Linked DNA regions of Homo sapiens: all the other regions are reported to be linked to region 1. The links are microRNA targets in miRTarBase. Many come from high-throughput screens and were not tested one by one. Region 1 holds a microRNA gene; each other region holds the end of a gene's coding sequence. Distances are between the middles of the regions.
Evidence for each region. The annotated mature microRNA hsa-miR-548ao-3p reads AAAGACCGUGACUACUUUUGCA and lies in region 1 at 1,171-1,192, opposite strand. An mRNA with a match to its seed (bases 2 to 7 or 8) in the 3' UTR can be bound and repressed. Matches are read on the target gene's strand: a 7mer-m8 pairs with bases 2 to 8, a 7mer-A1 pairs with bases 2 to 7 and ends in A, and an 8mer does both.

Region 1 (3,259 bases):
CCTTCGTCAGGTGAAAGGAAGAAGAGTTACTGTAAATGCCACGGGAGGCCCCGCTGGGAAACCAGGCAGCCCAGTGTCAATGAAGACCACAGGGTCCATTTAAATGGAGGAAACACCCCTCAACCCTAAGTGCCGAAGAGCTTAAGAATGAGTCTGAAACTAGAGCACTTCACTGGGTGATTAGGGGGCCACGCCAACCCATAGGAGGCCAGGATCTGGAGTGGTGAGGGCAAATTCCAGAGAGCAAAAATCCAATGGGAAGGGAAAAGAAGAGAGAAGCCATATCACCAAGCTTCTGGACTGAGTGCGAAGGAGCACTTGCAGGCACGCTAGCCACATGGATTAGACTGAGCCCGTGCAATCATTCCCACTCTTCTTGAAGTCAGTTTAAAATTAGAGTCAAAAAAACAAGTTATAAACACATGCAAGAAAGTGGTAAAGGAAAAAAGAACATATCAACATTTTGTATGACAGAAAGCAAATGGATGGTAGAATCTGGCTTAAAAGGGAGAAGAAAAGCTAAAATGCAGATAGGGATGCCAGTAAAGTGCAGAGAAAAGAAGAAAAAGAGGGACAGACAGGGATGCCAGTAAAAAACAAGCCCATTTGCACTCCAGGTCCCACAAATGCTCCTGATTGGGGCCCCCGGACACTCCTGAACTCCATCACAGAGGCTGTCAATGTTGGGATTGGCAGCAAGTTTACATATGGACACTCAAACCTACTCCCCTGGGCCATGAGTCCAGGTGGCTGCCCTCACCAACTCCAGCAGTAGCCATGGGCTTCATTCCATACAGAAGGCCTGTAGTTCCAGCTACTTGGGAGGCTGGAGGTAGGAGAATCGCTTGAACCCGGGAGGTGGAGATTGCAGTGAGCCGAGAGCGCACACTGCACTCCAGCCTGGGTGACAGAGCAAGACTCCATCTCAAAAAAAAAAAAAGAAAAAGAAAAGAAAAGGGGGAAAAAAAGAAGGCCTGAACCTGCACACAGCCTGCCGCTGGGGTATACTAGACACAGAGGAGGACCGGACAGGTGCTGCTGCGTGAACACCAAAGGGTTACATGAAAGTCTGCAAAGTGAAGAATGAGACACTCGGGTCTTAGAACACTACATTTATATGCCTGTGTCAGAGGATTGAGTGGTTTTTCTCTAAAGAAACTATTAGGCTGTTGCAAAAGTAGTCACGGTCTTTGCCATTACTTTCAACTGCAAAAACCGTAGTTACTTCTGCATCAACCTAAGAATAGTTCAAAAGAAAAGACATATGGGCCCTCTGCAAAATTCTCAAGTGAGGCCTAACAAATCACAGGCCCTGCATGTACACAAAGAGCTTCCAACGTCATGTCTCGCTGTTAAATTCAAATGGACAGTCAAGGGCTGGCAAGTATTTAAGGAAAGCCTCCAAATGTGAATGGCAGAGACTGTAACATACAAAACAGAAAAGGAAGAAAAGGAATTCAGAGATAACAGAGACAATGCAGGGAGTATTAAAAAAAAAAACTTTTCACTTTTTGCCTTGTTGCACTCCTAAAAGCAAGATGGGTCACCAGCAGCTCTCCTGGAGCCATCCAAAAAAATTCGGCCAGGGTTCTCATTCTTGTCATTATGGCCTCAATATGTGCTGCCAGTGTTTCCATCAGTATGCAGAGGAGGTAGGCTTCATTAGGTTAGACTAAGTGAGCTTCCCTGAATGGATTATCCAAGGCATCCACCAAGTGAAAGAAACCATGCTAGCTCTCTGTACATAAAATAAAATTTTAAAAAAAAAACTTTAAAAAATGATAATATGGCCAGGAGTGGTGGCCCGCACCTGTAATCTCAGCACTTTGGGAGGCTGAGGCAAGCAGATCACTTGAACCCAAGAGTTAGAGACCAGCCTGGGCAATATAGTGAGACCCCATCTCTACCAAAAAAAAAAAATTAGCCAGGCATGGTGGTGCATGCCTGTAGTCCCAGCTACTCAGGAAGCTGAGATGAGAAGATCAGCTGAGTCTGGGGAGATTGAGGCTGCAGTGAGCTATGACTGCACCCCTGCGCTCCAGCCTGGGTGACAGAGTGAGACCCTGCCTCAAAAAAAATTGTTTTAAATGATAATAAATTAGATAAGACTTTTGTATTCCTAAAACAAGAACAGAAAGCTATTAAAAGGAATGTTCAGAGACTGGGAAAGATTACTTGGAAATTTAAAATATAAGAGAAGAAATATAAAATGCAAGACAAGTAAAAAGATGTGAAAGAAAGGAAATAAATATGCAGTACACTACATGGCTCAGCTGCAAATAATATTTACATAATTCTAATAAATTAAACATTCAATATTAACCAAAAGTGTGATGTAATTATATTGGAAAGATAGTGTAAAAGAGATAAATCTTTAACTTCAATAACAGAAAATCAATAAATAATGGTTTTAAGATAAGGTTAAAGAGGCCAGGCACGGTGGCTCACGCCTGTAATCCCAGCACTTTGGGAGGCCAAGGCAGGTGGATCACTTGGGGCCAAGAGTCCAAGACCCGACCAGCCTGGCCAACGTGGCGAAACCCCGTCTCTACTGAAAATACAAAAATTAGCCTGTGTGGTGGCATGTGCCTATAATTCCTGCTAATTGGGAGGGTGAGGTAGGAGAATTGCTTGAACTCAGGAGGCAGAGGTTGCAGTGAGCTGAGATTACACCACTGCACTCCAGCCTAGGTGACAGAGCCAGACTGTCTCAAAAAATTTTTTCAAGAATATTTTTTAAATTTTTTTTAAAAGATAAGGTTGAAGAAATTTCATGAAAAGATGAACAAAATGACAAACAGATGGGAAACAGAGGAAAGAAAAAGAGAATCAATCCAAGAGTTTCAACATCTGAGAAAAGGGTATTATAGCAAGAGAGAACAAGAAAACAAACGGCAGAAAATACCAAAGAAATAATACAAGAAAACTTTCCAGAAATGAAGAACATGAGTCCTCAGGTTAAACAACACCCAGCTCAAAGAATCATGACATTTACAAATATGAAAGACAAAAAGAACTTTTAAAATCTTCAAGAGAAAAGGGTAGACATCTAATACAAAGGATCAGTATCCCAGTTGCACTGGATTTATCAATACAGACACTGGAAACTGGAGGATAATGAATCAATGCCTTTAAAATTGCCAAATTTGATACTGAGGCAAGCTATCAATCAGCATGCAAGAGTAGAATGAAAACATCTTCAGGCATTAACAGGTTTTAAAACATCATCTCCCATGTATCTTTTCTTAGGAAACTACTC
Region 2 (3,259 bases), 18 Mb from region 1:
TCCAGCGCAAGGGGAGTGGGAAATGGCTCTCACAGGTGCCTGCAGGGCTGAGCAACCTGGGTCCACTGATGGGGATACAGGGAAGGGCTGCTGTCCCTCTCCCCAGAGGGAGGAGCAGACAGGAGAGAAACAGGGAGGAGGCGCGAATTCCAGTAGCCAAGAACCTGGTCCTTTAAAATCCAGGGAGTCATAGGCAGGAAACTCCCCCCACACCCCCACCGCCAGGCGGGCCAAGCCTGAAGGCAGAGAAGGGACAAGTAAGGAGGCCCAGCAGGAACGAAGCCCTGGCCTCCTGTCACTCAGAGCTGTGTCACAGCAGGAGAGGAGGATGGAAATAAACGAACACCACACCTTTTTAATATGAGGTTTCATATTTATTTTGGTCATAAACATATGAGTATTTCATATATAACCAGGTGTTATGTGCTATTTGGCCCGGGTATAAAGCAAAACCTAAACAAATCAACCAACGCCAAAAAACCCCAACAATTTCATGTTGTCAGGAAGCTTATGTTAAAGGAATAAGCTTAAACACTGATAAGGCTGGTAGTCTAGATGCATCTTCAAGGAAGGCCTCTGAGGAAGGGACAAAGGAGCTGGGACCGGACTGGCTCTCTCTGAGCTTTGAGACCAAGTCTCCTGCACAGAAGGCCCAGCAAAGGCAAAGACTAGGAGGCAGCAGCACCCTGTGTCATCCAGAAGTGCAGGGGACAAGGTGTGGGACGCCAGATGGAAGTGGGAGAGGATGGAAGTGCGAAGACCGGAAAGGCCATCCCCTCCTAAAACTCCATGGACACAACAATCTGAATGTGCGAACTTCAGGCAGTTCTAACTTTGTCCCAGCCAAACCAGTCCCGGAACAAAACACACAATGCCTTGAGATGGAAAAGACTGAAACCCCTAGAATGACTATATCCGTAATTTATCCTACCACGACTGGGCTACTGTGGAGAAGAGTTTGCTGGAAAGAAGCTAAAACGATTACTGAGGTTTTTAAATAAAATAATGGAACGTGACACAAGGACAAATGTGTCAGCCATTTTAGATCCTGTTGTCACAGTGTTTAAGAATTGATATCTCTGAGATGAGTCAGATGCTTACAGAGGGGCCAAGCTCCTCAAACAGGGAATCTGTACCCTAAAACGCAGCTCAGGAATCTCTGCCCTAAAAGGCATCCCAGGGACTCAGTTCACAGACCACCAGAAGCGAGAGGGGCCCATCCATGCCTGAGTCGGCAACCATTTCACACCATTCCCAAGCACCGTCCACTCTTCCCTCTTGATGCCATGGCAGATGCCGGGGCAGATAAACACCTGCTCTGCCCTGAGCCCAAATGAGGCTCAAGATTCACTAACGTTCAACTGTAATGGCGCTTGAAAGAGAAGCTCTTCGCAGTCTCGGATCTAACTTAATTCTCACTGTCCTCATCTGCTGTGGACAAGTCGGAAGATGCAGTCCCATGACTGTCCCAGCACGACAAACCAGACACATGGCTTCCCAAAGATACCAGGCTCTTCAAAATCCTGGGCATATGTAAACATCTACTTATAAATAAATAAATAAATATTTATTTATAAATAAATATGGCTATATACCTCTAAAATTAACAAGTAAGACAAGCTGCCCCTTGAGAAGCTGCCAGCCATCAAACCCTGGTCCAGTCTCAGGGCGCAGGAGGGAGAACTGGAATGCAGTAAGTGCCTCCCACAGAGGGAGGATTTCTCCCTCCGTCACTAGTTATATTTTTAGTCATTTTTGACTGCTGATTTGTATCCAGGCAACCCATGTAAACAGCCTAATAAGTGCATTTCCTAAAGTTTTTCCATGTTTACATCATTATACAAAAATCGGAAAAGAGATGTACAGCCTACAGTAGTAAGCAATATAAATGTTTCTCTAATTAAGGTGGGGGTAAGCCCCAATAATCCTATCTTAAAGCTCAAAACTCTAAGTCGAACCCTCGTAAGTCCATATGCTCATGACTTAGCATAGGGCTACGTCTTGATAATCTCATCATTAAGTCAAAAATATCCGAAACTGAAAATACAGGTAATAACAAGATAATCCCGTTCTAAAGTTAAAAAACTATAAGGCAAAGCATTGTGGCTGTGCGGCATCTGTAGTTAGATGTCATTAAATGCACACACCAGTAGAGATGGAGCTTGCAATATAAGAAGCAGAAAAAAAGACTTGTCTCATGATGAAGAACTGCAAAGAATGACATCCTAAAACCACTTTTTTTCTTTTTAAATTGAGATGGAGTTTCACTGTGTTGATGAGGCTGGTCTCAAACTCCCGAGCTCAAGCAATCCACCTGCCTCAGCCTATCAAAGTGCTGGGATTACAGGCATGAGCCACCGCATGTGGCCTAAAACGACCCTTAATACACAATCGTATAACTATGCAGCCAAGAATCTGATATAAATTTCTCCCGTTTGCTTATCACACGCAGTATTTCATAAAAATTACTCCAAGTGCGTTAACAAAGTTCTAGGACCATTGGTAAGCTGCCCCATATTGGATAGTAGAGTTTGTTGGGGCATGGGTCAAGTACTGGACTGTTTCTTCCAGGCTGCTTCCCTTTGTAGGAGAAAAGGTAAATGAGGGAAGCTCTGGTTTCCTGAAGAGATTCTTTCACAGGCAGGACGTAGCAGAGCCTGCCTCATCTTCTTCATAAAAGAGCTTTTCGGAGCCCACCAGTTGGTCCTGAATTGTTTCCTTTGCATGTCCTTCTTCCAGTGTTGCCGAGGCATCCAGCAAGGTGCTGACTGAGAAGAGAGAAGAGATTTAGGGTCTCAATGCTCCAAGGACGATCAGCACAGGATCGACATGGGGCCCCCTGCTTCCAGCAGTGAAACCTCCAGAAGAGCCCTCTCAGCTATAGGGACAGCAGTTAGGACACCGTCCCTATTCCCTGTCCTCCTGCTGCGTCTCAAGGCACAAAACACTTACTGTCAGCGGAGTCAGCGTCATTCACTGGAACCAGCAGCCTCCTCCTCTGACACCCTTCAGCTTCTGCCTGTTCCTGTAACACACAGTGGGGAATGCTCTGGTCAGAGTCAGGAGTCCTGCAGTCTAGTACTGACCCTGACCACTAGCCAGCAAGAGACCTGCAGCGCTTTCCCTCTTGGGTCTCCATGGAGATGGAGACAAACCTCTGGTCCTCCATAGCTCTTGGGCTCTGTGTGCTGGTGGCTCATTGAGACATAAGTGACATGCAGTAAATGCTCACTTTGTAAGTGTTCTGACCAACTTTGAC
Region 3 (3,259 bases), not on the chromosome of region 1:
TACATCTTTTGCCCTGATGTGATTAATACATAAAATTATATGCCTGTATCAAAATATGCCATACATGGCATAAAGATATACACATACTATGTATCCACAAAAATTAAGAGAAATAAGTTTAAATTTTAAAAAGAATAAAAATCTAACCTATGGGAACAATATTCTTTATTAGCAGTTTAAAGTCACTAGCAAAAATAATTATTAGAGATGTTAGCCCATTATGTTATCAAGTAGTATACTGTTACCCTCTTTTACCTAAACCCTTGAGTAATGTGGGATAGGTAAAGTCAGTGGCATGAAAACACTTCATTGAATGCACAATAGTTTTAACATGTTAAAAAAAGTTTAATTAAAAAACTAAGTTCACGCATAATCCAAAAATTTTTAAACACATTGCATTTTATTACATAAAAGTACAAATAGTAAAATGATATACTACTAATTCACTTTAATTTTAACTAAGATTAAAAATGGTTTTCTCTTACTATAATGCAGAAGAATATTGCTCTGAAAACCTACTTCATGGATCACTCAATATTATAAGTTAAACACAAACAGCCTCTTCACTCAGGTTTTCATCATGCATCTTACATTTTAATGTCCTTATTCTTTCATAGAAAGTGTCATAAATAATACCGACCTAACAGAAATGATTTCTCATATCTTTGATGCATGAAAAATTAATCACATGCTTTCACATGTGAATACAATAGGAATGAAGAGCATGAATTTGAGTTGAATTACATCATTTGCTTTTCAAAAACTAATTTTTCAAGAAAAAATATAATTTGAATGTAATTATACATCTACAAAAAAATTCTACTTCTTTTAAAGTTATATACACATTATTTACCTACCAACTTTAGTTTTAAATTATTTTCTATACTCAGCATTCTGATTCTATACTCAGCAATGTCTGAAGTGTCAGTACCTTAGATATTTCTACTGTGAATTCTCTGATATTTATATAGACTTAATTTTGGATTAAATTATTTTTATATTTACTTCACTTGCAAAAATATATTTTAGTATGAGGCCTCTGGTATTTTCTAAGCTGTAGTTTTTTAAAAAATGTTTTCACAAATGCATTACATTTACAGTGCTTTTCTCCAATATAAATTTTCTGGTGTTGAACAACATTTGAGCAACTGCTTCATGGTTTTCCTCTAGTGCAAAATGGGTACAAAAGTATCTGTGATACAAGTAAAGGTACTACAACCCTCTTCGTATTTGTATTGTTTGTCCTCACAATGAATACTCTTTTTTTGTTTTGTTTTTGAGACGAAGTTTTTGCTCTTGTTGCTTTGGCTGGAGTGTAGTGGTGTGATTTCAGCTCACTGCAATCTTCGCCTCCCAGGTTTGAGCAATTCTCCTGCTTCAGCCTCCCAATTAGCTGGGATTACAGGGGCCTGCCACCACACGCAGCTAATTTTTGTAAAATTTTTAATAGAGATGGGGTTTTGCTATGTTGGCCAGGCTGGTCTCAGACTCCTGCCCTCAGGTGATCCACCCACCTTGGCCTCCCAAAGTGCTGGCATTACAGATGTGAGCCAGCACAACTGGCTCCTCTTCTTCACTTTAAAGGCTTATATTTTCTGAAAGATCTCTTGACAAAAATTGCATTTATAATGCTTTTATTACGTACTAACTCTCTAATGTTGAGTAAAATCTGAGCAGATAATAATGGCTTTTCCACATTCCTTGTATTTGTACAATCTTTCTGAAGTATAAATGCTTTCCTGTGCAATAAGGGGTGAGCATTTATTAAAAGTGTTGCCACATTTTTTACACTTCCAGGAGTTTTCTTCAGTATGGATTCTTACCTACAATCAAGTGTGACAACCATTTAAAGGCTTTGTGATATTTTTCACATTTCTAGGATTTTTCACCAGTATGATTTATGTTAGAAAGTTCGAGGTGTTGTCAAAATTATTGTCACATCATTCAGGTTTGTAAAGTTTTCAGTATTATCTTATGTTTAGTGAGGTTTGAGGATTGGTTTAAAGTATTGCCACATTATTCACATTTGCAGGGTTTCTCTCAAAGTATAAACTGTCTTATATGTAGCAAGGTGTGAGGACCAGTTAAAGGCATTGCCACGTTTTTTACATTTGTAGGGTTTCTTTCCAGTATAAATACTCTTACATGTAGTAAGAGTTGAGAATCAGTTAAAAGCTTTGCCACAGACTTCACATTTGTAGGGTTTCTTTCCAGTATGAATTTTCTTATCTACAGTTAAGGGTTAAGGAAGGTTAAAAGCTTTGCCACATTCTTCACAATTGTAGGCTTTCTCTCCAGTATGAATTTCTGTATAGTAAGGTATGAGGATTGGTTAAAAGCTTTGCCACATTCTTCACAACTATAGAGTTCCTCTCCAGTATAAATTATCTTATGTGTAGAAAGGTGTGAGGACTGATTAAAGGCATTGCCACATTCTTCTCATTTGTATGGCTTTTCTCCAGTATGAATTACCTTATGTTTAGTAAAAGTTGAGGATCAGTTAAAGGATTTGCCACATTTTTCACATTTGTAGGATTCTCTCCAGTACGAATTTTCTCAACTTTCAGTAAGGTTTGAAGATTAGTTAAAAGCTGTGCCACATTCTTTACATTGTAAGGTTTCTCACCAGTATAAAATACCTCGTGTGTGCAGAAAAAGTTGAAGACTTGTTAAAGGCTTTAACACATTCTTCACATTTGTAGTTTCTCTCCAGTATGAATTTTCCTATGTGTAGTAAGCTTGTAGGATCAATTAAGTTTTGCCATACTCACATTTGTAGGGTTTCTCTCCAGTATGAATTTTCTTATGTGTAGTAAGATTTGAGGATAGGTTGAAAGCTCTGCCATAATCTCCACATTTGTAGGGTTTCTCTCCAGTATGAATTATCTTATGTATATTAAGAGATGAGAACTGGTTAAAGGATTTGCCACATTCTTCACATTTGTAGGGTTTCTCTGAAGTATGAATTTTCTTATGTGTAGTAAGGTTTGAGGATTGGTTAAAAGCTTTGCCACATTCTTCACATTTATAGGGTTTCTCTCCAGTATGAATTTTCTTATGTGCAGTAAGGGTTGAGGATAGGTTAAAAGCTTTGCCACATTCTTTACATTTGTAAGGTTTCTCTCCAGTATGAATTATCTTATGTCTATTAAGGGTTGAGGAGCAGTTAAAGGCTTTGCCACATTCTGCACATTGGTAAGGTTTCTCTCCCGTATGAATTCTCTTATGTATAGTTAGGTTTGAGAATCGGTTATAAGCT

Region 2: the mRNA of TNFRSF10D is a reported target of hsa-miR-548ao-3p. Seed matches in the 3' UTR shown: 7mer-m8 at 757-763.
Region 3: the mRNA of ZNF107 is a reported target of hsa-miR-548ao-3p. The part of its 3' UTR that is shown has no 7-base or 8-base seed match.

The regions. Positions count from the first base shown.
Region 1 is chr8:41,269,895-41,273,153 of GRCh38, forward strand. MIR548AO (microRNA 548ao) reads right to left here and starts at 1,249; the gene lies at 1,154-1,249. All of the region lies in intron 2 of SFRP1 (secreted frizzled related protein 1), which reads right to left. It also overlaps the pseudogene RPS29P2.
Region 2 is chr8:23,135,236-23,138,494 of GRCh38, forward strand. TNFRSF10D (TNF receptor superfamily member 10d) reads right to left here. Exons shown (of 9, transcript NM_003840.5): 8 at 2,953-3,025; 9 at 353-2,768. The coding sequence ends at 2,635. Among named protein-coding and RNA genes, the nearest start is that of TNFRSF10D, 27 kb to the right of the region's middle.
Region 3 is chr7:64,708,149-64,711,407 of GRCh38, reverse strand. It overlaps ZNF107 (zinc finger protein 107), which reads right to left. Exons shown (of 4, transcript NM_001282359.2): 4 at 1-3,259. The coding sequence ends at 2,752. Among named protein-coding and RNA genes, the nearest start is that of MIR6839, 31 kb to the right of the region's middle.